Linked DNA regions of Homo sapiens. The protein of the gene in region 1 purifies or fractionates together with the protein of each later gene. This does not show direct contact. Each region holds a gene or a part of one and is shown in the gene's direction. Other genes may lie near its edges.

The links.
Region 2: the proteins of NOL10 (region 1) and WDR36 fractionate together in Homo sapiens (co-fractionation; one large-scale study listed by BioGRID). This does not show direct contact.
Region 3: the proteins of NOL10 (region 1) and NAT10 purify together in Homo sapiens (co-immunoprecipitation; 3 studies listed by BioGRID and IntAct, with this or other methods). This does not show direct contact.
Region 4: the proteins of NOL10 (region 1) and KSR2 purify together in Homo sapiens (co-immunoprecipitation; one large-scale study listed by IntAct). This does not show direct contact.
Region 5: the proteins of NOL10 (region 1) and NGDN purify together in Homo sapiens (co-immunoprecipitation; 3 studies listed by BioGRID and IntAct, with this or other methods). This does not show direct contact.
Region 6: the proteins of NOL10 (region 1) and DDX10 purify together in Homo sapiens (co-immunoprecipitation; 2 studies listed by BioGRID and IntAct, with this or other methods). This does not show direct contact.
Region 7: the proteins of NOL10 (region 1) and DDX47 purify together in Homo sapiens (co-immunoprecipitation; 3 studies listed by BioGRID and IntAct, with this or other methods). This does not show direct contact.

Annotation. Positions count from the first base shown.
Region 1 is NC_000002.12:10,683,476-10,686,975, reverse strand, and holds part of NOL10 (nucleolar protein 10), read left to right. Parts: intron 1-2,363; coding exon 2,364-2,409; intron 2,410-3,500.
Region 2 is NC_000005.10:111,098,848-111,102,347, forward strand, and holds part of WDR36 (WD repeat-containing protein 36), read left to right. Parts: intron 1-1,741; coding exon 1,742-1,874; intron 1,875-3,497; coding exon 3,498-3,500. UniProt on the Homo sapiens protein: Part of the small subunit (SSU) processome, first precursor of the small eukaryotic ribosomal subunit.
Region 3 is NC_000011.10:34,104,218-34,108,428, forward strand, and holds the start of NAT10 (RNA cytidine acetyltransferase), read left to right. Parts: upstream 1-1,411; 5' UTR 1,412-1,575; intron 1,576-3,993; 5' UTR 3,994-4,008; coding exon 4,009-4,116; intron 4,117-4,211. UniProt on the Homo sapiens protein: RNA cytidine acetyltransferase that catalyzes the formation of N(4)-acetylcytidine (ac4C) modification on mRNAs, 18S rRNA and tRNAs.
Region 4 is NC_000012.12:117,524,991-117,528,490, reverse strand, and holds part of KSR2 (kinase suppressor of Ras 2), read left to right. Parts: intron 1-1,371; coding exon 1,372-1,420; intron 1,421-2,784; coding exon of another isoform or gene 2,785-2,793; exon of another isoform or gene 2,794-2,917; intron 2,918-3,271; coding exon 3,272-3,500. UniProt on the Homo sapiens protein: Location-regulated scaffold connecting MEK to RAF. Has very low protein kinase activity and can phosphorylate MAP2K1 at several Ser and Thr residues with very low efficiency (in vitro).
Region 5 is NC_000014.9:23,475,688-23,478,673, forward strand, and holds the end of NGDN (neuroguidin), read left to right. Parts: intron 1-38; coding exon 39-91; intron 92-341; coding exon 342-465; intron 466-551; coding exon 552-720; intron 721-1,512; coding exon 1,513-1,669; intron 1,670-1,815; coding exon 1,816-1,873; coding exon of another isoform or gene 1,874-1,881; exon of another isoform or gene 1,882-2,319; coding exon 2,320-2,339; 3' UTR 2,340-2,486; downstream 2,487-2,986. UniProt on the Homo sapiens protein: Part of the small subunit (SSU) processome, first precursor of the small eukaryotic ribosomal subunit.
Region 6 is NC_000011.10:108,663,815-108,667,868, forward strand, and holds the start of DDX10 (probable ATP-dependent RNA helicase DDX10), read left to right. Parts: upstream 1-1,254; 5' UTR 1,255-1,339; coding exon 1,340-1,525; intron 1,526-4,054. UniProt on the Homo sapiens protein: Putative ATP-dependent RNA helicase that plays various role in innate immunity or inflammation. Plays a role in the enhancement of AIM2-induced inflammasome activation by interacting with AIM2 and stabilizing its protein level.
Region 7 is NC_000012.12:12,812,091-12,816,145, forward strand, and holds the start of DDX47 (probable ATP-dependent RNA helicase DDX47), read left to right. Parts: upstream 1-1,255; 5' UTR 1,256-1,277; coding exon 1,278-1,364; intron 1,365-2,040; coding exon 2,041-2,134; intron 2,135-4,055. UniProt on the Homo sapiens protein: Required for efficient ribosome biogenesis. May have a role in mRNA splicing. Involved in apoptosis.

The DNA of each region.
Region 1 (3,500 bases):
CTAGCCCTTACCTCTACTCTGAACTGGACTTGTGTATCCAACTGTTTCTTGACATCCCCGCTTGGATGTCTGATAGGCATCTCAAACTTAACTTGTCCAAAGTAGAACACCAGCTTTCCCCCCACATTTCCCCCTCCTGCAACCTAGTGGTCTTCCCTCCCTCAGCCAGTGGCAACTCCATCCCGCAAGCTGTTGATGCCAAAAACACTGGAGGCTTTTTGTTGTTGTTTCTTTGCTCTCATACAATCCACTAGAAAATGCTGTTGCTTCTATCTTCAGTATAGATCCAGAATCCAGTCACCTCCATTACTGTCACTGATTCAAGACACTGTCACCCCTGACTATGCAATTGCAGTTATTGCAGTTGACTTCTAAGCAGTTTCTCAGTTTCCACCCTCTACCCCTTTATTCCACAGTCTGTTATCAGTAAGCTGCCAGGGTGATCCTCTACTCAGAACTGTCCAGTGGCTCCTGCTCTCTTGGGGGTGAAAAGCAGAGTCCTTTGAGTGACTTTTAAGGTCCTACTTGATGTTGTGCCTTCCTGCCCTCCTCTCTGAGCTCAGCGGTCACTGTTCTCCACCTTACACTGGCCTCACAAGTCTCACTGCTCGAGACCAGGCACACTCCTGCCGTAGGACCTTGGCACAGGTCCTGCCTGCCTGCTTTTTTCCCAGATGTTCTCCAGGCTTTGCCTCCTCATGCCTTTCAGGTCGTTGCTCAAGAGGACCTTAACCTTATTCAAAATTATAATTCTCCACCAACACTTCGTCTCCTTTTCTTGCTTTATTTTTTCCATGGCATACATAACCATCTGACATTCTAATTGTTTTACTTCCTTATTTGTTGGTGTTCCCTCACTTGAAAGAAAGCTTCATGAAAGGAGGGGTTTTTAGATTTTTAAATTTTTTTTTTTTTTGAAACAGGTTTACTCTGTTGCCCAGGCTGGAGTGCAGTGGCACAATCATGGCTCACCTCAGCCTTGACTTCTCTGGGCTCAATGATTCTTGCACCTCAGCCTACTGAGTAGCTGGGACTACAGGTGTGTACCAACATGCCCAGCTGCTTTTTTTTTTTTGTAGAGACAGTGATCCCACTTTATTGCCAGGCTGGTCTCGAACTCCTGGGCTCAAGTGATCCCCTTGCCTCAGTGCTGGGATTATAGATATGAACCACTGCACTTGGCCAAGAGGGCTTTTTTTTCCCTCCTGTTTTATTTACTACTGCTATACCTAATTACTGGCATTTAGTAGTACTAAATAAATATTTGTTTAATGTATTGATGAATAAAGTTAATTTTCATTTTCAGCTCCATCACACTTTTGACTTGGGGCTACGATTTTTATTCACACAATTTGACCTACAGTCTCCCATTCTGGAGTTAATCAGCTTTTGTTGTATTTTTAATGCCGTTAAATTTATTTTCGTTAGTTTTCTAGTGGTTAAGCCTGTTTTTTTCTTTTTTTTTGGCGGGGGGGGGGGGGGGGGGGACGGAGTCTCTCTCAGTCACCAGGCCGGAGTGTAGTGGGAAGATCTCAGCTCCCTGCAACCTCCGCCTCCCGGGTTCAAGTGATTCCCCTTCCTCAGCCTCCCGAGTAGCTGGGATTACAGGTGCCCACCACCACACCTAGCTAATTTTTTGTATTTTGGTAGAGACGGGGTTTCACCATGTTGGCCAGGCTGGTCTCAATCGGCCTCCCAAAATGCTGGGATTATAGGCGTGAGCCACCATGCCTGGCCAAGTATCAGCTATTTGGTCAGTTATTTATCTGGTTTTATTCCTTGTAAAAAATATATTTCTATAAGAAACATTCTCCTATAAATGTTTTACTTTTTAAATTCTCACTTAAATAGATTAAATTGTTCCATATATTTAGTTATAACCCATAATATTTGAGGCTTTCTGCTTTCCTTTAGATTGCTTAGATGGGTTAGTTTTTCTCTATGTAAAAGATTGTAGTTCAAAAAATTTCTTATCTGGCCGGGCCTGGTGGCCCATGTCAGTAGACCTAGCATTTTGGAAGGCAAAGGTGAGAGGATTGTTTGAGCCCAGGAGTTTGAGCCTTCGGTGAGCTACAGTCACATCGCATCATTGTACTATAGACTGGGCAAGCATGAGACCCTGTCTCTAAAAAAGTAAAAATAAAAGAAATTATCTAATGTATGTAAGTATACACAAGAAAAAAAATCCAGGAGATATTTAATACGTTACGAGTAGAGTTAGGATTAGAGAATATTTTTTGCTTCCTATGTTATATATTCCTATGAAGTTTGAATTTTTAAATATAAGCATGTATTGATTTTGCAAGCCGAAAAACAATTTAGCTAAATTTGTTTTAAAATAAACTCTCTTCATTTTCTTTAAGTGGCTTTCTGATAGGAAGAAGAGAGCGCTACAGAAGAAAGATGTAGGTGAGTATTGTTTTTTCCCACTTCAGCTGCGTTAGTGATCCATGTTCTAATGCTTTTACTCATTTGCTGTTATATATAAGTGAGGATTTATAAGAATGCGGTAACATGTAGTGGAAAATGAATGCTCTTGTCCCTTTTCTTTTTTTTCCTTTGACATGGGGTCTCACTGTGTTGCCCAGACTGGTCTCTAACTCCTGGGCTTGAGCAGACCTCCCACCTTGGCCTCCCAAAGTTTTGGGATTACAGGCATGAGCCACTGTACGCAGCTCTTCTCCTTTTTTTTTTTTTTTGAGATGGAGTTTCACTCTTATTGCCCAGGCTGGAGTGCAATGGTGTGACCTCGGCTCACTGCAACCTCCACCTCCTGGATTCAAGCAGTTCTCCTGCCTCAGCCTCCTGAGTAGCTGGGATTACAAGCCACCACGCCCGGCTAATTTTTTTTGTATTTTTAGTAGAGATGGGGTTTCTCCATGTTGGTCAGGCTGGTCTCGAACTTGCGACCTCAGGTGATCCACCTGCCTTGGCCTCCCAAAGTGCTGGGATTACAGGTGTGAGCCACCGCGTCCGGCCGCCTTTCTCCTTCTTAAGAAACTTTTTGTTGTGGTTGGTATGTTCCTGGTGGGTATGGGATTTGATTTTACCTTATTAACTAATAAGTTAGCCTGTTACCGTTTCATGGATAACAATAGTAGACGCAAGACTCCTGGGCTAGAAATGCAGATGTTATTACTCACAGCACAGTAGATAGCATGAACATCAGCATATTTGTGCCAGTTCCCCTCTTGGGTCTCCTGGGGACACTTAGCACAGTCCAGGTGGATGCTTGGCACACAGTGGATTTGCGTTGTGGCCGAGCAACACAGCTTGGGAAGTCCACTGCTTTTCTGGCAAGCAGTAAGCAAACCTGTGTTTTGTCCAGAAGGGACAGGTTACCTGTCTATCAAGGTTCTCAGCAGTGTAAACAACCCTGAGAAATGGCTCAGGTAAGAGTGGCTGGGGTCTTGCAATCTCGCCATACCCAGTAAGCATGCAGGTCCAAGGAGGACTGTCTCTCCTAACAGGTCCCTAATTGCTTTGCTCTCTTGTGTATC
Region 2 (3,500 bases), on another chromosome or scaffold:
TAACTCATTTATTTGCTTTATCTTAGGGTAGTATGTGTTTAATTAAAATTTAAAATCTATGTAAACATCTATGCCAGAGATTTTGCCTGTAAATAGTAAGAAATTAAAAAAATCAAAAATCTTTAACGTGTAAGAAAAAAAGTTCTAAGTAAGAAAGAGATAAACAACTTTAGCAAGTTAACTACTTATAAACTGTTTAATGTGCTTACCTCAACTAATGTATTTTCCATTGCAGTTCTCCAACTTTAATGATTTGTTGTATTGTTTTCCCTGTGGAGTGAATATTGATGTATTTTCATACCTGAGTAATTCTTGGTTTGTATTTTCACCTTTTAGTAAAGGAGACTGTAATAGTAAACTTGATCTTGTAATCTGAAGGAAAATATACATCCATTTCCTAGGGATATGAGTCAGTTTCTTTCAACTGTGATAGCTTAGACAGTGGCTATGTTTATGGGATTATGTATCTTTAAACATGAAGAATTTATCCCTAGGATATCTACACCTTTCCTCAATAAAATACTGGGTTCATCATGAATTGAATCTTTTAAGTTCTTTAATCTGGTTACATTTTTAGCTTATATTGCCTCTTGGTTTTTTTTTGTTTTTTTTTTTGTTTTTTTTTTTTTTTTTTTTTCAGTAAATATCCTGAAGATTGCATTTCTGGGAATTATTCCAGGTTCTTGTTTCAGATTAGTAACCCTTTTCTTGTTTTGTTTTTGCTCAAGTAGAGGGAGGGAACAGAATTCCAAAAGTATTCCCTGTGCAGATAGAAGTTAAAAGGGCTTTTATTAGGTTACAGGATCTGGTTCTTACATTCCAGCAGACTCTCTTGAACCAGTATATTCAGGGAGCCATTTGTAGTGACTGACGAATAAAGGCAAGGATCTCTTAAAATAGCATTCAAAGTAAAGTTTATATAATTTTCACCTATACCTGTACATCCTAAACTGTGGTACCCATACCCTGGGATTGTACAGTAGTGTGCCAGATAGTATGTGAACCTAAAGATTAAGTGAAATGTACCTTCTTTGATACACAAATTTACTGGAAAATAGAGTGGAACATTGTTTTAATCATGGAGGAACTGTAAAGTGAAAAGCAGAATTCAAACATAGAAATTTTGAATGTAACCAAAGATTTCAGAGAATTTTTTTATCTTGGAGCAAGTGACCACTGGTGATGCCACCCCCCACTCCACAGGGTTATACGTTTTTTTTTTCTCCTTTATTAGAGATTATTTTGTGGAAATGTGTGAGAAGTACTCTTATTTCACTGAGGTGTGTCTTTTATTTTTGGCATTTTTTGAGTGGCCCATCAAACTTTCCAGATAATTGGCTCTTCGTTCCCTGAAAGAGCTAAGTATAAGCACTTCACTTGGAATATTCACTCCTGTCTGTTGATCAAATTACAGAAACATGAATGCTAATCCTTAGGATCTTTTTTTTTTAACTTTATTATCCTTTTCTGTAAAGTAATTCAAAAGTGAATGAAACTTTTAATAGTATTTTTATTAGAAGTTACAGAAAATTTTTGACAGTCTAAATTAAATTACATTTACAAGTTGCCTCTCATTTATTTTATTTCTCAAGGAATGTTTATAGATTAGTATCTAAGTCTGTGGTTTATTTTAACATATAAATCTTTGATGTGATAGACTTACTTTAAGTGATAAATATATGGTTACATAAAACATTTTAAACTATTTTATAAAAAATATTTATAACTTTCACTTTTGTAGAAGAATACCTGCAGTTGACTTTTGATAAATCAGTATTTAAAATTTCTGCAATTTTGCATCCAAGTACCTACTTGAATAAAATACTTCTGGGCAGTGAACAAGGAAGCCTGCAGTTGTGGAATGTAAAATCCAAGTAAGTATTTTAGTTAGAAAATAATATAGCTGTCACCTTATCCTCATCTACTACTTCCTAATGTATACTTAAGTCTCATTTCTCCCTGCCCTTGTATATTTATTTGGAGGGTTGTCTATAAATAACAGTTGGTCCCCTGTATCAGAGGAGTCAATTAACCTGGGATCAAAAATATTCAAGGAAAAATAAATAAATAATAATACAACAATAAAACATCACATTTTAAAGTAGTACAGTATAACAGCTATTTACATAGTATTTACATTATATTAGGTCTTATAAGTAAGCTAGAGATTATTTAAAGTATATGCATAAATGTGTGAAAGTTATATGCAAATACCACACCATTTTATGTAAGGGACTTGAGCATCTGTGAATTTTGGTATCAGCAGAGAAGTTGGGGAAGTCCTGGAACCAATCCCCCACAGGTAGTGAGATATAACTATATGTTTGCTTTTGGAGTTGTTGCTGGTGGCATCACATATGTGAAAGGTGGCATGTGATCCTGACACATGTTAGACAGCTTCATAAATGCTCACTGAAAAGTATGTACTAATGACCTAATAACTGTAAAGAATTGCTATAGAGAAGGCTCTAATAAAGGTCTATGAGATCCATCAGAAAATAATAATAATGAGATTATTACTAGGGAGCTTCTGATTTTCCATACATGAAGATTTTCTATACATGAAGAAGGTAAAAGATGGAAAGGCAAATCAATAATTTAGTGCTAGCATTTAGAAATGATTTTTAGGGTTAAAAGTACTTCCATAATCTCCCATAGATATGGCAAATATCTAATATTGATGTAGCTAGAGGGCTGGATACATGATTTTGAATACTTCTATCCATTATGTAAACATTTATCAGTAGAAAAAGGTGGCAGCTCACACTTCTTTGTATAGCATTTTAAAAAGCAAACAAAAATATTTGACCATCCAAATTGTTTTTTTCCAAAGTCCTTTTAAATTCAAAAGGGAAAATAAGATTATTAAAGGTTTGATGTTTTAAATCAGTGTTTCATTACAATTTAACAAATACCATTGACTGCCTACTTTGTGCTAGGTTCAGCAATAGTGACTGAAATACTGTCTTTGCCCATTTACAGAATTTAATACATGATTTAATATTTTAATGATAATTATAATGATTTCAGATACCTCTGTTTGCTCCATGGATGTGTTATTTATCATTCATGACTTGCTTCTGAAATTGAGAGCAGCATTACTGTTGTCATATAACAGTCATATAACATGCAAATAATATTTTTATTAAAATATAAGTTATTCCCTTTCATGATGTTTCTATAAAGATACTGCAGTCCTAAATTTTTTTTACTGTAGCCTGTAATATAACATGATTTTTACACACGTATTTTTTTTTCCACTTAGGACATTTAATTTCTTAATGAGGTGGCATAGCATAGTAGTTAGTTTGAGACCTAGAATTTGTCTGGACAATATTACTAACCTTGTGACATTAGCTTAATCATCAGAATAGTGTGTGGAAGAGTAAGAACTTAATAAATATCACCTATTATTATTTCACTTTTTAATGTGTAGCTGATATTGTTTTCCTCCAAAAAAAAAAAAATACAGCTTTCAACTATTTTTCTTCTTGTAGTAA
Region 3 (4,211 bases), on another chromosome or scaffold:
GTTGCTCAGAGCAAATGTTTTGGGTGCCATCTTCAATGTACTTTTATAACCTGCATCTAATCCTTAAGTGAGTCCACGTGGTTCTAACTTGAATATCCAGAGTTATCTTATACTTCTAACTACTACCACAACTACCATCCTAGCACAGGTGACTACAATAGCTTATAATTGTTCTCCTTTTTCTACTTTTGCCTTCCTGTGATTTAGTTTTTGCATAACAGGAAGCCTTTTAAGAGGGCAAAGCAGATTTTCTCATTTCCCTGTCCCCCACAAACTCCAGTGGTTTCTCATCATGACTAGAATTAAATTCTAAATCTGGTCCTTCACTTGCCCACTGCTTTGGCCACACTGACTGCTTTGCCAGGACTCCCCCATCTTGGAGCTTTTGTATGTACATCTTTGGCACGGGGAAGTTTTTCACTCATATTCTCAGGGCTCATTCTTTCTAAATTTCAGGTCCTTGTTCCATCCAGTGTCACCCCGTCAGAGGCCTTCAGTGTTCGTTTCTAAAATAGTATCCTTAGTCACTTTACTCACTGGATACTTCTGCTTAATAGCATTTAAAACTTAACCTAGAATTAACCACGAGGGGCAGGAACATTTTGGACACTATCCCTTGTGAGCAGAATAGTGCGTGGGCATATTCACATTTTGCTGAATGAACTAAAAAATTTCATGATGGATGTTGGATTAAATGGGTAGTGCTGCTGATGACATTAAAAGTGTATCTGGGGAAGGGGTTTGGATTCAGACATTTGCGGTATCCAGGAGGAAACATCAAGCAGTTGATAATGTTTTTTGAAGTTCAGCGATCTGCCCCAAAGTCAAGAATGCAACACTATGTATAGGTTGTCCCTGTAGTCATGTTCTTGGAGTTCACTGGAAGCCCAGGGGGAGTAATTTCATTTGACGACCATATACAGGCCTAATGGGAGCCTGCAAAGTACAGCGGCCGCAGTCATGGGTAGATTACAGGATTCCCATCTGTAAGATCAGTACTGTGGGGGTGGAGGGCCAAGCGAAACCAATAAAATAGGTCTGTTGGCCGAGTTTCCTCAACTTAACGGGGATCGGTTAAATTGAACACAAATCGTTGGATCCGTCGCGTTTCGCGTAACCAGGCTGACGCTGAAAACCCTGGACCTACGTGGGCAGGCCCTGGGGTGCGGACATCTATTTTGCCCTTCTTAGCCGAGGTACTTTAGCTGGGATATGAAGAGTGAAGAGGCAAACCGCAGCCAACACCCAGCTACCGCGAGCAGTGGGACTAAAATGCGCAACCGCAGTGGACATCTAGGCCTCAGCTCCGCTTCTGGTGGCTTACGTCATTACTCAGCGACAGCCTTGAGGAAGGTCCCTTCTCGCTCGCCATCTCTGCGACTTTAATGCGCTTGCGCACGTGCTGTCTACCAGTTCCTGAGAGGGACGCGTGCCGCGGAGCCAGGCTTACTACGTGACCCGGACACCAGGCATACGCTAGGGGCAGTCAGCTGTGCCTTCTCTTTCGGAGTTGTTCCGTGCTCCCACGTGCTTCCCCTTCTCCACTGGCTGGGATCCCCCGGGCTCGGGGCGCAGGTACCCAACGCGGGAGGGCCGGGTATGGATGCCAAGATCGGTGTCTGTGTTCTTCCTGGGTCGAGAGGGGACCGGCCTCAGGATGAAGGCTCTGCATCCGGACGGATACCTGGCCTACGCCGTTTGTCCTCCACCCCTCTTTTGGGGCGCTCCAAGATAACAGAATCACCTCTCCAATACGCAGCCGCTCTCGGCGCGTGCTTCTCGAGCGTCCTCGGGGATTTGCGTGGCTCGATAACCACCTCTAAGTAGTGCCTGTAACTGGGGAGTCGGGGTGAATGGGTGGGTGACAACAGTTGTTTTCCGTGGAGCTTGCCCGCAGTGCCTGGCTGCAGGTCTGGGCATTATACTTAGGGTAATCTGATTCCAGATCCTTCCACGTTCTTAAATCCTTCACTGTGCACATTCCTTTATACTCTTTATTCAGCAGTCACATTCAGGACTTGGTTTTGTTTGCCAGTGCACCTAAAATGGTGCCTGCCACATAGATGTTATGTGTAGATAGACGAATGAGTGAGCGAAAAATAATCATCTCCTTCAAGGCCTTCCCCATCCAGGCCTTCCATGACAGCTTCAGCCCATAGTAATCTCAGCCCTTCCTTCATCTGACCGGTCCCTCAGTATAGCTATTTTTTTTTTTTTTACATCTAATTTTACCTGTGTTCTTGTTCCTCATCTCATTCTCTTAAATACCTTCTTCAAGAAGAATGCAAGCTTGAAGTCAAGGGCCTTGTGGTACTACTTCTGGGGCTCCCACAGTAGCTAGAGCAAAAGGCAGCCCCCATTAATTAGTTGTTGATTGATTTTTGCGGGATCTTTATGTGGCCGGCAACACAAGGTTTACAAGTTGGGAAGATTGGCGAACTGGGAAGAGCTCAGGCTTTGGAGTCAGGAAGACTTGAGTGTGAATTCTGTCTGTCGTTTTTCTGCCTCGGGATATTTGAATTCTTTATACTTTCTCCTTTACGTATAAATTGGGGTCCTTGACAGTGACTTAGTGTTTTATAGTAAGACATATGCTAAAATCTGTTTGGATTGGAAGGTTAGAAGGGACAGTTAAGGTATGGTAAGTTTCAGTAAATGAGCTTTATGTTTATAATGCAGTAGGTACCAGAGTTTCTAAGTAGCATGTCACTTTTACATCTAAGTAGCATGTTACTTTTACAGTGATATTTCTGATGGTTTTTTTGATGTATTTATTGGGATGATGCAGTATTTTACTGTAGGTAATCACAGAACTTTTTTTTTTTTTTTTTTGAGACGGAGTCTCACTCTGTCGCCTAGGCTGGAGTGCAATGGCACACCATCTCGGCTCACTGCAACTTCCGCCTACCGGATTCAAGTGATTCTCTTGCCTCAGCCTCTCCTGCAGCTCCACTACCACTCCCGGCTAAGTTTTGTATTTTTAGTAGAGACGGGGTTTCGCCATACTCTTGAATTCCTGACCTCAGGTGATCCACCCGCCTCGGCCTCCCAAAGTGCTGGGCTTACAGGCATGAACCACCACTCCCGGCGAGAACTTTTGAGGTCTGTCTGTACAAAGGCTTCAATATCGTTTTCCCTAAAATGAGGAAACAGTTGGACACATTACATCATGGAATTATTCATTGATGGTTATTGATTTCCCTGACTTTATTAGTAACACGTGAATTTTTTAAGATTCCACAAAAACAAAAGAACAAAATAAAAGTCCCACCATCCAGAAGTAGCTACTTTATACTTTGGTATTTCCTTCCAGTCTTTTTTATTTTTCCCTCTGTTATGTGTATGCATAAGAAATGTTATCATACTTTATTCTGTCATGATCTTGTCATAAGCATCTATATCCATATCCTTAGTTGTTAAAAATGCTTGGCCCAGCATGGTGGCTCACACCTGTAATCCCAGCCCTTTGGGAGGCTGAGGTGGGCAGATTGCGAGGTCAAGAGATCGAGACCATCCTGGCCAACATATGCGCCTGTAGTCCCAGCTACCTGGGAGGTTGAGGCAGGAGGATTGCTTGAACCCAGGAAGCAGAGGTTGCAGTGAGCCGAGATCATGCCATTGCACTCCAGCCTGGCGACAGAGTGAGACTCCGTCTCAAAAACAAACAATGCTTTGGATATTTGGATATCTCCTTATGTATTTTAGTCATTCTTCTACTTTTTTGAATATACAAGTTTCTGGCTTTTAAAAAATATTTAATAGAGGTGAATTACAGGCTTTCCAGGCTGAGGGAAGGTTTTCTCACCTCCCAAGCCTAAGGTTTCCTGAGTTTAAAACTAGAGGCTGATGTCTTCCTGTGGAGCTCGTAGAGGGTTAAGTAAGACAATACTTATAGATATGCCTAGCACAGTCCCAGGCCCCACAAAAGGCAGCCAGCTAATGTTCCTTAGACAATCTAGTGCGCATGGCCAGTTGTATTTCTTTCTCTTTTAGTAATAATTTTTCACCATGCATCGGAAAAAGGTGGATAACCGAATCCGGATTCTCATTGAGAATGGAGTAGCTGAGCGGCAAAGATCTCTCTTTGTTGTAGTTGGGGATCGAGGAAAAGATCAGGTATGGCCTGGTAAATGCTTCCTGAATTACTTTTTATCTTGTCCAAAGAATCAGCATGTTTAAGCACTCTGCTGTTTCAGGACATAATGGCATTA
Region 4 (3,500 bases), on another chromosome or scaffold:
CTGAGGGTCAGGATAGGGGAGGTCCCCCAAATGAGGATGGGGAAGGGGGAATCTACTGGGGAAATAGGAAAGGAGGGGTGGGGTATTCATTGTGATTCTTTTTTCTCACCTGTCTCAGCTCTTCCATGCCTTCAATAGCCCAGTTCTGTCTCCCTGCTGCACTTCAAAAACACATGCACATCCTCAAGTCTAAACCCTGCAACATACCTCTAATGCACACTGTACCCAACATCCATCACATGTCAAATGTCACATGCATTTGACAGTCCCCTCACACCTCTAATGCACACCCAATTATACTATCGGCATACAGCATCCCCCTCAACATCCTGTGTGTACACCCAACTCACATGCACACAAGACAACCCTGCACAAAGCACATCCCATAATACCTATGCAGTGCTCACACAAATTGTGACGCCCCGCCAGCATCTATACCCAACATGTTTGCTTACTAAGAACAGAACTGCAGCTCATGAGCTTATGAATGCATCACACACACACACACACACACACACACACACACACACACACACACACTTGTGTCTTCCAGCTCAATATGGTCTTTTTATTTTCATTCCACACATCCTAATTCCATGTGATTGGCAAGACCTACCTCAAACACTGGGAACTTTCAAATACACCCAGTAATTCTCTCATCTTGGAATTCCCACGACACTCCATTTATCCAATTCACACCTAACTTTTGGCCTTATTACTTTTAGCCTCCCTGCATAGTATCTACATACTGGCTTTAGTTCCTTCAGTAGGAACACAATATTCCTGAAGGTCAGAAGCCGTGCCAGTTTCAATTCTATATCCCTCCAAGGGCCTAACACTGTTCCTGGCACACACATCTATTAAATAGTCGCATGAATGCATGAATGAACAGACAAACAAGAACACTGAGATCCTTCCAAGAAATTCCAAATTTGTGTGAACTTCGGAGATCTGATTAATTCTTTCCTGGCAAACATATACAGCTCTGAGGACTTATCTACCCAGGGCATTTAGGCCAATTTATAAGAAAGCTGCTAGATAAGTTGAAACCAAAGCAATGAAGAAAAATGAGCCCTGAGCAGCCCGGAAAATCAACTTAAAACAAGGTCCTTGCGCACTGTGTTGTGTGTGTGTGTGTGTGTCTGTGTGTGTGTGTGTGTGTGTCTGTGTGTGTGTGTGTGTGTGTGTCTGTGTGTGTGTGTGTGTGTGTCGAGGTTATGGATTATTTCAGACACACCTGTTGAAATGAAATGTGAGATAAAGACTTGGTGGTAAAGACCTCCGATCTGGGGATTCTTCGTACATAGCTAAACTCAATATATAGACCTGCCTTTTCACCTAGGGATCACGTTTATTTTTCTTTCTTTACAGCTTGGAAGGAAATCCATTACTTCAAATTGAAGTGGAGCCAACGTCGGAGGTGAGAATCAGAGAGCAGTGAAGCGACATTTTCCAGGGACTGCCCAGAACTTGGCAAAGCCGACTGACGTTTTGGATGACGCAGAGGGCTTGGGGTCAGGTGGGGGCTGTGGTGGCCCTGACTGATGGATATTCTAACTCTGGGACAATTAGCAAGCAGTGGTCCCTCCCAGCACTGAGTCTAATGGGCCATTATATGGCATGCATCATGGAAAAGCCAGTTGTGTGGAAATTGTCAAGAGATTTGCATTCTTAGTGGAAAGATCAGCTCAGGGCCGGGTGAATACCAAGGGGGATGTGCCCCGCTGCCTTCAAAAGAATATGTGGGAAGAGGTGGGGGCCTCAGGGATGCTGGGCTTAGAAGTGTTGAGAATGCTCTGGGGCTTCTTCCCACCTGCCTAAGTGGCTGCAGAAATACATGAAATGCCCTGGCTGGAAACCATGGAGTCCTGGCCCCTCAGCTCTGCAACTGCTCTGGGTCTCATACTGAAAGGAATTGAGTCAGGGCTTCCAAGGAAAATCGTGTTCTTTTCTGGGACTATTTTGGTTGTTGAAAAATGATCCCGGGAGAAATCAATGTCCCCTGTATTGTTTCTCCTGAATGTGCCATCAGGGGCAGCTTGCCCAGGTATTTTGGGTCAGGAAGAGCTGTACCCAGTCAAGAAGCCACCTTCTCAGGCTGTTTCATCAGGTCCCAGGGTCTCTGGGAATCCCCGCTGGCCCTGGCCACCTGCTGCTCCCACAATTCTGCAGGAGAATCCAAGAGGCAATTCGCCCCCAAGCACCCCTAGATATCATGCTGATAAGGTGGGTCCCTACACCTTGAGCATTTAACTCTAGTGGTAGTTACGCCGAAGTACGCCTGAGTCGTGTGTGTGCATGATAAAAATGCAGATTCCTGGTCCTGGCCTGCGGATATTTTGATCCAATAGTGCTGGGTGGGGCCCAGGAATCTGCATTTTCTCGGGCCTCCCAGTCGGTGTTTAATACAGATGGTCAGGTCTGTACAAAGAACTTAACAGGCCTTCATCTAAAACCTCACACCGGCCCTGGGGCAGATTTTATTACCCCCACTTTACAATGAGGAAAGGCAGCCTCAGGGAAGTAAAGCAACTGGCTCAAGGTCATACAGAGGCCAGATTTCAGCTCTCTTTGTCTGATTGTTAAGCCCATTCTGTTAACCCCTCACTCTCATGTCTCCTACCCTCCCAGCTGCTGTAGGAGCCTCAGACAGCTAGCTTGTAGCTCTGACCTCTCCCAGTTTTTGAATCATCAATTCCAAATTCCCTGGGGGAAGCAAAAGATACTCCATGTTGGCAGTTGTCATGTGTTACATGCAGATGCACGATGTACCCATTGTTTTAGCCTGTCTAGCCTGTCAACTTTATCACATGCACGTAAACAGCCAAACCAAAAGACTATGGAAGAATAGGAAGGCCATCGGATATTCAAGTCCAGAGACCTGGATCTTAGTCCCTCTTCTGCCTGGCTGCATGACCTGGAGTGAGTCACTTCCCAGGGCAACATATGGGACTTTCGGTGCTAAAACCAGGAAGATTCCAGCAAACTAGAATGGGCGATCCCTATAACACTTCTCTCTGAGCCTCAGTATCCCCCCATTTAGCACAAGAGAGGTGGATGATCATGATCTCCCTTTCAGCACCTTCACTGTAGTATGATTCTAGACCAGATTCTAGAGCTGGGGAAACAGAGGGACGTATGTCTGCACAAGCTCCAAATGCATGTAGAGATGTGCCCAGACCTACGCATGTGCACGGGACCCAGCAGGACCATGAGGGAGGCTGGGGCAGTGGCAGACACAATTCTGACCTCTCTCCCACTCCGGCCACAGAATGAAGAGGTCCATGATGAGGCCGAAGAGTCAGAGGATGACTTCGAGGAGATGAACCTGTCCCTCCTCTCGGCCCGGAGCTTCCCACGCAAGGCCAGCCAGACCAGCATCTTCCTTCAGGAGTGGGACATCCCCTTTGAGCAGCTGGAGATCGGCGAGCTCATTGGAAAGGGCCGCTTTGGGCAAGTGTACCACGGCCGCTGGCATGGCGAGGTGGCCATCCGGCTGA
Region 5 (2,986 bases), on another chromosome or scaffold:
TCCAAATTTTGTAAAATTCATTGGGTTATTTATTTCAGGTGAGAATGACCCACTTCGTTTTAAGCCTCATCCCAGCAATATGATGAGCAAGGTAAGGGGTTGTAGTATTCTCCTGATTTTTTTCTGAGGCAGCTATACCTAGATGAGCCTCTTGGTGATCCTGGATACCCTGGGATTCTCTTAGGACTTGATTTTCCAACTTGTGTGTTAGAATGCTGAGTTTGAGATTCCCTTTTTTCCCTTTTTATATTCCCACCACCCCAGGGTACTCCAGCTTTGGGTTTTCTTCTCACTTATCTCATGAATGCTTCCTAAATTTGCAGACATTGTTTCTTTTGTAGTTGAGCTCTGAGGATGAGGAGGAAGATGAAGCAGAAGATGACCAGTCTGAGGCTTCAGGGAAGAAATCTGTGAAGGGAGTGTCTAAGAAATATGTTCCTCCACGCTTGGTTCCAGTACATTATGGTATAAACTTTGGCTGCTGCCTCCTCAGCATGAACTGTTTCTCTTTTCTCTGTTCTTGGATAACCCTGCTTATTTTCATCATGTAGATGAAACAGAAGCTGAGCGGGAGAAGAAGCGTCTAGAACGAGCCAAGAGACGGGCATTGAGCAGCTCTGTCATTCGTGAACTTAAGGAGCAGTACTCAGATGCTCCAGAGGAAATCCGTGATGCTCGGCATCCCCATGTTACCCGCCAGAGTCAGGAGGACCAACACAGGTCTGAGCCCTTGCATTAGAAATTATTCCTGCACTCTAGAGTCCTGTCCTCATGCTTTATACTAATGTGACTAAGTTTGGTACCAAGAGAATTAATGTTACATAGAAAATGGAGTGAAAACTTTGGGATGATAGTTTCTAAGAATCAGGAGTTTGGAGTTCAGGATAGAAACTAGGAAAATTTTTACCCCAACTGTTTAGTTCAAAGCAAAAGCAGTACATTGCAATTCGACATGAGATTTGAGGGGGAAAAAAGCAGTACAAAGAGGAATGTATGCAGTTCCACATAGTACAACTTTAAGATTCTGTGTTTCACTGTCACAGCTCTCACTTTTGTGCAGAAGGCAATAAAGGTAGGTTTTTATAGTGACATTGTGAGTGCTAGATAAGTTCAGGGAAGGAAAGTAGAAAAGCAGTGTAATTGAATACAGACTCGTCAACTTTGCTCAGGTGCAGTCTTTGCAGTTGATGGATTTGCATGAAAGGACACGTTTAGGGAAACCTGCTTATAGAGCTGAAATAAAAAAATTTTGGTGTAATATTTTAAATAATATTGTGGATAGGCTATGGATTCATATCTAGCATGAGGGAAGTTCTAGCACAGAGCACATTTCATTGAGGAAGCTCAGTATTGAGCATTCAATATGTCCTTACTAAATACTATGTTGATCTGCTGTGAAACTTCTTGAGAACTCCCTGAACAAGAGATGAGTAGATACTTGGGCCCAGGTTGTGGGCTGGAGCTTTCCATCTCCATGGTCTGAGCCTGCTGGAAACTGTCTTTCTCTGGCAGGATTAACTATGAGGAGAGCATGATGGTGCGTTTGAGCGTCAGTAAGCGAGAGAAAGGACGGCGAAAACGAGCAAATGTCATGAGCTCACAACTTCATTCCCTTACACACTTCAGTGACATCAGTGCTTTGACAGGGGGAACTGTTCATCTTGATGAGGTGAGGTTGAGATATGGTTGTAGTAGGATGTGACTTTCATGCTTTCAGCAAAATGTATGTGGGGCTTATTACCATGAGGAACTTGGGAAGGGATGCTGGCTCTCAGAACCACAGTGCCATTCCATCACTTCTCCATCTGTCTCCAGGATCAGAATCCTATTAAGAAGCGGAAGAAGATACCTCAGAAAGGTCGGAAGAAAAAAGGTCAGTGAACTGCTGGGACTTAGGTGATCAGGTGCAAGGTGGGGAGTACAAATTGAGTCTCTTTGGATTTGCCATTCTGGGTCTCACCAAGCCCTGTAGTATCTCTTCCATACTGGGCAATAATCTCCTTAGGTGGGCTTTTATTTTTTGCTTTCCTGAGCTGGAAATCAGCATCATTCACAAAATGAATCTCTGGATTCTGCCTCTAAGGTCCCACAGCTCCTGTTCAGGCTTCCCTAAATAGAACTGGTAAAGTGTCACTTGAAGGAACCATTATCCCATTTCAATTTTATTCCTACTTCTCGTCTTTTGTCCTGGGAAGATATTCAGGGTACTGCCTAGGAGACCCCACCCCTGTGAGCCCTTCCCTCTAGATGTCCTGTTTTCCTGTCCCTTTAGCTTTTCCAACTGTCCTTTGCCTCATTCTTGGTTTCCCTTCCTTTCAGGTTTTCGGAGGCGGCGGTGATTATGGGTGTACATATTTGTATATTTTTTGTCATCCTGAGATACTTCTAATTTCATTGTATATAGGTGGTTTTCCCTGGAATTCATTAATTGTTTGCTTTGGACATGTGGAAAGAGCCTTACTAATAAAATTGATTTTGCTTATGAATTAAAGCCCCTTTTTGCACATGTATTGTACGACTGGAGTCGTTGGGTTTGGGATATTTTTGGTGAGTGGTTGGTGAAAAGGGAAATTTTTTTTGGAAGTGCAAAACATTTGTATTGTTTTCTTTGATAATATATTTTTCCCAAAAACTAAAAATTGGTTACGTCACAAAAAGTATTGAGAGACGAGGCTGGTATAATCAACTCTTTCAACCCATGTTGCCACAACTTCCTGTATGATTTGTTATAATACAATACAGATTGAGATATTAACACATGAATTTTAGGTTTTATTAGTGTTATCTGGGCTGGCCACCAGGTGGCATAAGTGGTTCAAGAAACTTGAGCTTGGCTGTAATCAAAAGCAAGATAGAACCTTTCCACATCAGCAAGATTATTCTTATCTCCACTTCTCTGAATGTTTTTCATTTCTTTCTGAAATAGCATGAACATAAGGCTGATCTTTGGTCAGTTACTGAGGGAGTTTGTAGAAAATAGTAGAGT
Region 6 (4,054 bases), on another chromosome or scaffold:
GTCTACCACATCTAGTGTTCCTGAGTGTGGAAATTCTCTTGTTCACCTCCTGTCCTCACTCCCTTCCAATAAGCCATGTCTTGTTTGGAGGATGGGCATAGAGTTGAGAGTAGTGATCTGGATATGTGGGGTTGGAAAGGAAATTTGAGAGCCCAAAATTCTGCCTGTGAACTTTGAACTCAATTTTCCAATCTCCTTTGCTACAGCTAAGCTCTCCCACCCACATCCGGTGTTTTCCTGGAGGCTGTAGGTAAATGTGTCAAAAAATTCAATTCATTGAAAGCCAGTTCACTTAAATGTCCAACTTGCAATAACTTTTCTATTACCTCCTTTTTTTTTTTTTTTTGACGGAGTTTCACTCTTTCACCCAGGCTGTGGTGAAGTGGGGCGATCTTGGCTCACTATAACCTCCGCCCCCGGGGTTCAAGCGATTCTCCTGCCTCAGCCTCCCAAGTAGCTAGGATTATAGGTGTGCACCACCACGCCTGGCTAATTTTTGTATTTTTAGCAGAGACAGGGCATCACCATATTGGCCAGGCTGGTCTCGACCTCCTGACCTCAGGTGATCCACCCACCTCGACCTCCCAAATTGCTGGAATTACAGGCGTGAGCCACCGTGCCCGGCCTCTATTACCTACCTCCTTACGTTTAGTTATCATTTTGTCTCCATAAAAGCATTTTAAGGCAAATTCAATTTGATTCCGTTCCAGTTTCCTTGCTGTTGCAGCTAGAGTCTGAGGGGCCCAGAGGAAAAGGAAAACCCAGAGGGGCATAAGAAGAATATAGAATATTCATTTTTATTCCTGAGGAAGTACAACCACCATGGATGGAAATCAGAAGTCACTAACTAGCTGTTTACTTCTGGGCAAATCTTTTGGCTCGTTGGCCCGAAAAGTGCAAAACGAGGGTCACAATTTTCATTCACAGATTGTATGTGTTTACACACATACTCACGAACGCTTAGCAAAGTTGAACCTGGAGCAAATGTGTTAATAGCCCTTAAAGGGTCAGTGTATGACGTCACCATAGTAACAACAACAGTGCGCATGCGTTTTTTTTTAAAGAGCCGGCGTGCTCCCGGCTCGGCTCAGCTCGCCCCCTTCCGTGGAGTGCTGCGCCCCCGTTTCCCCAGGCTGCCCCTCCCAGCAGGAGCCAATTCGCCAATCACAGCCCTCCTTTTCCTGACGTCATTGGCGCGTGCCCCGGTTTCAAAAGCTCGGGGGCGGGCTTCTGAGTTCGCGCATGCGCCTCTGTGCGTTTGTCCCATGCTGGTTCCGTGAGTCTGGCCTTAGGTGTCTCGTGTCTGGGGTTGATCCGAGCTGTCGCCGCCGCCGCCGCAATGGGCAAAACGGCCAACTCTCCGGGTTCGGGAGCCCGACCCGACCCGGTGCGGAGCTTCAATCGCTGGAAGAAAAAACACAGCCATAGGCAGAACAAAAAGAAGCAGTTGAGGAAGCAACTGAAGAAACCCGAATGGCAGGTCGAGCGCGAGAGTATCAGCCGCCTCATGCAGAACTATGAAAAGGTGAGGCCGGCGCTGGGGAGGGGGCTCGGGCCGGCCAGCAGCGGGGCAGCGTCTCACTGCGGCGAGGAGTTGCAGAGTGGAGGCGGCGGATCTGTCACCGGGACCCGGCCGGGAATGAGAGGTCACGCCGGGTGCCACAGCTCAAACCTCTGCACCGTTCTGGCCACTCTTCTGCTTGCCACACTGTTCCTAAAAAAATAATAGAAATGCGGCCGTACCTAAGGGTAGGGAGACTAATGCTGTAATAGCTACAGTCATATTCATATTAATAATACTGATGACAATAGTGGTAATAATGACACCTACATTTTTAAGCACTCACCATGTGCTTACAGTAATTGTTTGACTTGATCTGAGGTATGGATATTAATAATCCTATTTAACAGATGAGATAATTGAGGTTCTAAGAGGAATGAAACTTGTCCGAATCTTTCACGCTTAGTAGGTGGTGTGGAATTGGAAGCTAGATCCATGTCTTTCTAATCCCAAAGCCTTTGCTTTTAACCATGAAGCCAGACTGCATCCCTCAACATCATCTATGCTCCTTCCTGTGGCCACCTCATTTTCTCCACAGGCTTCATGTCCCCATCCAAGAATTGGCCTAGAAAAGCTGGACCGCTGGTCTGTTTCTGTCACCTATCATCCCCACATTGTAGCTGGTGTTCCCAGATGAGTATACCTGTAATGATCACTTTGACCTCCTGACTTCTTCCCCCAACCTCCAGACTCCACAGGTCTGTCAATTCCTCTTTTCCCTTTCCCTAAATCCCATGTTTGTTGGTCTTCACCCACATCTTTCAGCTTCTCAGCCCCCTTCTAGTGCAGTACAATCAGGGATTTAACAGATGGAACATTCTTGTAACTAAGGTTGCCATTGTAACAAATTACCACAAACTTGGCGGCTTAAAACAACAGAGATCTTGAGGTCAGGAGTTCGAGACCAGCCTGACCAACATGGTGAAACCCCGCCTCTACTAAAAATACAAAAAAATTAGCTGGGCCTAGTGGTGGGTGCCTGTAATCCCAGCTACTCGGGAGGCTGAGGCAAGAGAATCGCTTGAACCCGGGAGGCAGAGGTTGCAGTGAGCCCAGATCGCACCATTGCACTCCAGACTGGGTGACATGAGTGAGACTCTGTCTTAAACAAACAAACAAAAAAGCCCAGCAACAACAGAGATTTACCTTGTCACAGTTCTGGAGGCCATACGTCTGAAATCAGTTTCACTGGGCCAAAATCAAGGTGTCAGCAGGGACTTGCTCCCTCCAGAGGTTCTAGGGGAGAATCTGTTTCCTGCCTCTTGTAGCTTCTGGTGGCTGCTGGCATTCCTTGGCCTGTGGCTGCATAACTCCAGTCTCTGCCTTCTCCTGTGTCAGTCTATCTCTGTTCCTCTGTTATAAGGGCGCTTACGATTGCGTTTAGGGCCTACACAGATAATCCAGGATAATCACCCCATCCCAAGATCTTTAATTTAATCACATCTGAAAAGTCACTTTTGCCATGTAAGGTAACATTCATCCCTTCCAGAAGTTAATACATGGACATGAGTTGGGATCATTTTCAGCACCACATCCTAGCTCCACCATCTCAGCAGACCGTAGAGCTAGAAACCTAGGAGCAGTCTTAGCTACTTCTCTCTTACCTACTCTTATATCCAGTCGGTCACACTGCTGATCTGTTCTGCTTACATTTTTCAAATGCTTCTTCATCCCTACTGCATTGTCTTCAGTCCCCATCATCTCTTGCCTGGATTACTATAGTAAATATTGCTTTCAACAGGGATCAGCAAACTTTCTCTGTAAATGATAGTGAATGTTTTCAGCTTTGTAGTCCTAAGGGTGGAACTACTCAATTGTTCCCTTGTAATACAAAAGCTGCCATAGAAATACTTAAATGAATGGGTGTTGTTTTTCAGTAAAACTTTAATTAGTGAAACAGGTGGCTGATGGGCTTTGTCCCCTAGGCCTTAAACCTTTTAATTTGTCCTCTGTACTTCTGCTAGAATGATTCTTTCCAAGATGAAGATCTAATCATTTTACTGCCGATTAGAACCCTTCCTTGGCTCACAGTTACTTTTAGAAAAATTGTCAAATACAGCGTGTCAACATGTTCTAGTCTGCTGCAGAGTAAGTTATTTGTGGTCAGGCTGACCTGGTTTAAATCTCACTCTTCAGGTATTGGCTAGCCAGGTTTCTTCATCCCTCTAAGTCTCAGTTTCTTCTTTCAAAAAACCGAAGTTATTAGCCACCCAGAGTGTTGTAAGGCCCAAATGAGATAATGTGTATACACCAAGTGGTACATGATAGGCATATATGAAGGAACAGCTTGCAGTTTTGTGAATTGTACATGCTTCTTGTGCTTCTCATCCTGGTACTTGATGTTTCCACTGTGTGCAGTGAGCATACCCATCTGCCCACTCTAAGGAAAGGTACTCTTCCTTCAAGATTTAGTGCAAACTTCTCTTCATCACCTCCCCTGACCGAGTTAGGGCTACTGTGCATCTGTAGCATTTTGTAGATACCTTTATGACA
Region 7 (4,055 bases), on another chromosome or scaffold:
CTTCTGTTGGATGTGTTTTAGCAGAATGTGATATCTGTGGGCCTATATTTTAATATACTTGATATATTTTATGCTTTTCTCACTAAGCACTAGGTTTTTCAGATCTAATCATATTGTTAAGGGCATGTTTGTAGACACCATGTTCACATTTTAACTATGCATTTTCCCAGTGACGGACACCAGATTGCCCCCAACTTCCCATCCTCAGGAATAAAACTGCAACGAGCACCCTGCGCAGTGTGAGACCCAAGTGACAGGCCACAGGAGGGCACTCGCTGGCCATGGGGCATGCAACATACAGCTCTGAATTTGCTGCTTTCCAGAATAGCCTTAGTAGCTTCACAGTCTTGGTACTTGGAATTCTCTCACTCTGGAATGATTATCTCCTGGGATCTTAAAGCGTTTTCTCCTGCTCAACAGTGAGGTCTTAACTCAAATATCACTGTCTCAGAGAGGCCTTCCCAATCTCACAGTTATCCCCACAACCCACCCTCCCCAGGTTACTCTGTAATTTTTATGTGAACAGGGTTTCACTCTGTTGCCCAGGCTGGAGTACAGTAGCACCATCTCCACTCACTGCAGCCTCAACTTCCGGGGTCAACTGATCCCTCAACCTCAGCCCCCTGAATAGCTGGGATTACAGGCGCATGCCACCATGCATGCCTGACTGATTTTTGCATTTTGCAGACACAGGGTTTCGCCACGTTGCCCAGGCTGGTCTCGAACTCCTGGGCTCAAGTGATCCGCCCGCCTCGTCCTCCCACAGTGCTGGGGTTACAGGCGTGAGCACACCCAGCTACTTTTCACAATTTGAAATGCTCTGTGATAGCTTATTTATGATCTGTCTTCTTTTTCTTCACGAGGGCAGGGGTCGCTGTCCTATTCACCAGCCATCTAGCATAGCCTTAGCAAATGGTAGGTTCTCAACATTATTGAATAAAGTAATGACATAATAAAAAAATAGTATTGTAATATCAATCCGTTCCAAACTCTATGGTTAGAAAAGCGGGGAACATAACTGGCGACACACGTAGGGAAGGCTCTTTAAAAGGGACCTAAAGGTCAACTGGAGTCCCTGGTGATCAGCCCCTTCTGCACTCGGATCTATTCCGCAAGCCTACGCGCCCATATTCACTGGGCCCCACCTGCCTAGCGGACGGGTGCAATCCCCGGCAAGCCCGCAGGGGGCGCGCAGAGCACGTCGTCCGGGGAGAACTAAAACTACATTTCCCAGCATCCCGCGCGCCGCAGACCCACTTCCGGAGACCTCACACAAGATGGCGGCACCCGAGGAACACGATTCTCCGACCGAAGCGTCCCAGCCGATTGTGGAAGAGGAGGAAACTAAAACATTTAAAGACCTGGTGAGAATGGATGACGCTGGCTTCTTTTATGTACTCTGGTGCTAGGCTCAGGGAGACCCCAGGTACCTTAGATCCCGCTCTGATAGTGTACAAAAGCATCTTGGGGCCTAGCTTGGGTTTTCCCCAGAATTTCAGAGGGCTGGGTTTCGGACGTGCTCTGAGTTTGGGTGGTGGGAGGGCTGCTGGGCCCTGAGACCCCCTATTTGCCCTATTCGCCACTTTAGTGTGGCAACGTTTGTATGTGCATCCAGGAGGTTGTACATATGGGGAATGGAATTGGTCTCTTTATAACTGGAGCTTTGGAGTCAGATGAACCAACCAGATTTGAATTTTGACACAGTCTCTTACTGAGGACAAGTTGTTACCTCTCTGTGTTTCTCTTTCCACATCTGTAAATTGGGGATAGTAATAAGTACTTACCTCGCAGAATTGTTGTGACGATTAAATGAGATGATACATGTAAAGCACCTGGCCTTGGCCTTGGTGAGCAGAAAGTGTTCGTTAAGTCTTGAGCTACTGTCTCATGGTATAGTTAAAGAGTAGGCTCTGAGATGCACAGTAAATACCTTTTAAATCAAATACAATGGTTGTACATGATGGGTCTGACAGTCAGTTAAGTAGGAGGGAGGTAGGGGTGTGCTGTTCTTGGCTAAGGTATATTTTTCTGAATTCCAAGGGTGTGACAGATGTGTTGTGTGAAGCTTGTGACCAGTTGGGATGGACAAAACCCACCAAGATCCAGATTGAAGCTATTCCTTTGGCCTTACAAGGTAGGTTGTATGACTTCGTACAGATTTAATATAAAGTTATCTCAATTAGATACCCCTTTTGAAAGCTGTTGCTTGCATACTTCAAGTGAAATAAGGATATGGTCACTAAAGGTACAAAGTTTGGGTAATGGTATTTGAAAATGTCATTCTCCAATTTTACTGAGCTTACTTTCTGTCTTAATAGCTGAAAGGGTTTGTTCTCTGCCACAGATGCTGACTTTAAGGAAGCCCTAGGTTAAAGTTAAAGTATATTAACGACAATCTTGGTAGACTTTATGCATCAGTGGGCGCACACTTAGGGAAGGATGCCTGGAACACATATGTGTGTCTTGAGGAGTTGAGAATTCTTGCTGTGAGCCATGTTTATCAGATTTGTAAAACAGTGGTTAAAGCAGATTGATGGCTACTGGAACTGAAACTAATGGGATGAACTTTTTTCTTTTTGAGATCTTTTTTTTAAGATGGAGTTTTTTTTGAGATAGAGTTTCGCTCTGTCGCCCAGGCTGGAGTGCAGTGGTGCGGTCTTGGCTCACTGCAACCTCTGCCTTCCAGGTTCAAGCAACTCTCCCGCCTCAGCCTCCCAAGTAATGGATTACAGGCGCATCACCATGTCCGGCTAATTTTGTATTTTTAGTAGAGATGGGGTTTCAGCATGTTGGCCAGGCTGGTCTCGAACTCCTGACCTCAAGTGATCTACCTGCCTTGGCCTCCCAAAGTGCTGGGATTACAGGTGTGAGCCACCACATCTGGCTGTAACAGGATGAACTTTAATAGGAGTAGAAGTAAAGTCCTGCTCTTAGATTCCTAAAGTACCAACTTTACAGGATTAGGGTGGGTGATAAAAGAGGCCCAGAGGTCTTAGTTAACTGAAATCTATTAAGATCCTCAGAGAGAGTGAATGTAATCATAGCAATTGTTATAAGAGGGGTAATGTGGCTAATTATTGTTAGTATTAATGTAGCTATTACTGTATTACTATATTATTAGTGATTAATGTAAGCTATAATTATTACTCATTAGTAATTAATGTAGTGATTATTATTGATAATAATTGAAAGATTTAATGATTTGAAGAGCTGTCATGTGGAAAAGGGGTTAGACTTACTCTACAAAATTCCATTTGCTCTTTCCATAAATAGTTACTATTTGTTGTAAATGTAAGGCACTGGAGGTTAACAGTCTGTCCTCTCCAAGAGTCTATAATCTATTAAAGAGATAATTATAAATTTATTACAAGTTGAACAGGGACCTAAGAAAGTTACATTCAGAGTGCACTGAGGGAGAAGAGATTACTTCTAATTAGGATGGATTAGAGAAGATTTATTTCATTTTATTTTTGGCTGGGGAGGTTGGGAAGACATGTGAGCTGAACCTTGAACACTGACTTTAGAAGGATTTAGACATTCAGATATGATGGGAGGGGAGGACTTTCTAGGCATAGGGAACAGCATGAAAAAAAGCCAACTGGAAAACATGGGCATGTATGGAGATTTGCAAGTACTTAGCAGAGTGGTGAAAAAGTTTAGTAAGGTGATTGGGGCCGGATTATGAAGGATTTGAGTGCTGGGTCAAGGAATTTGGTCTTCGTTTCATAGGCAGTGGGGCATTTTTGGAGATGAAGGATTTAGAGTTGTACTCTTGGAAGATTAATCTCATAGCTGTGAAAGATCATTAGAAACAAGAGACTGAGTCTGGGAAACCAATTAGTAGGTCTTTGTAATGATTTTTGCAATCAATAATGGGTAGGGTGGTGGTAGAATGAAAAAGAAAATGTTGGAAAAAGAATCATTATGATTTTACAACCAGTTAAGCAAGTGGAAGGCAAGGAAGGGGTGGGGAAAATCTAAGTTTCTAGGCTGTATGTTTAGGGCATATTATTGGTGTACCACTGATACAAAAAAGGAACGGGGGAAAAATGCAG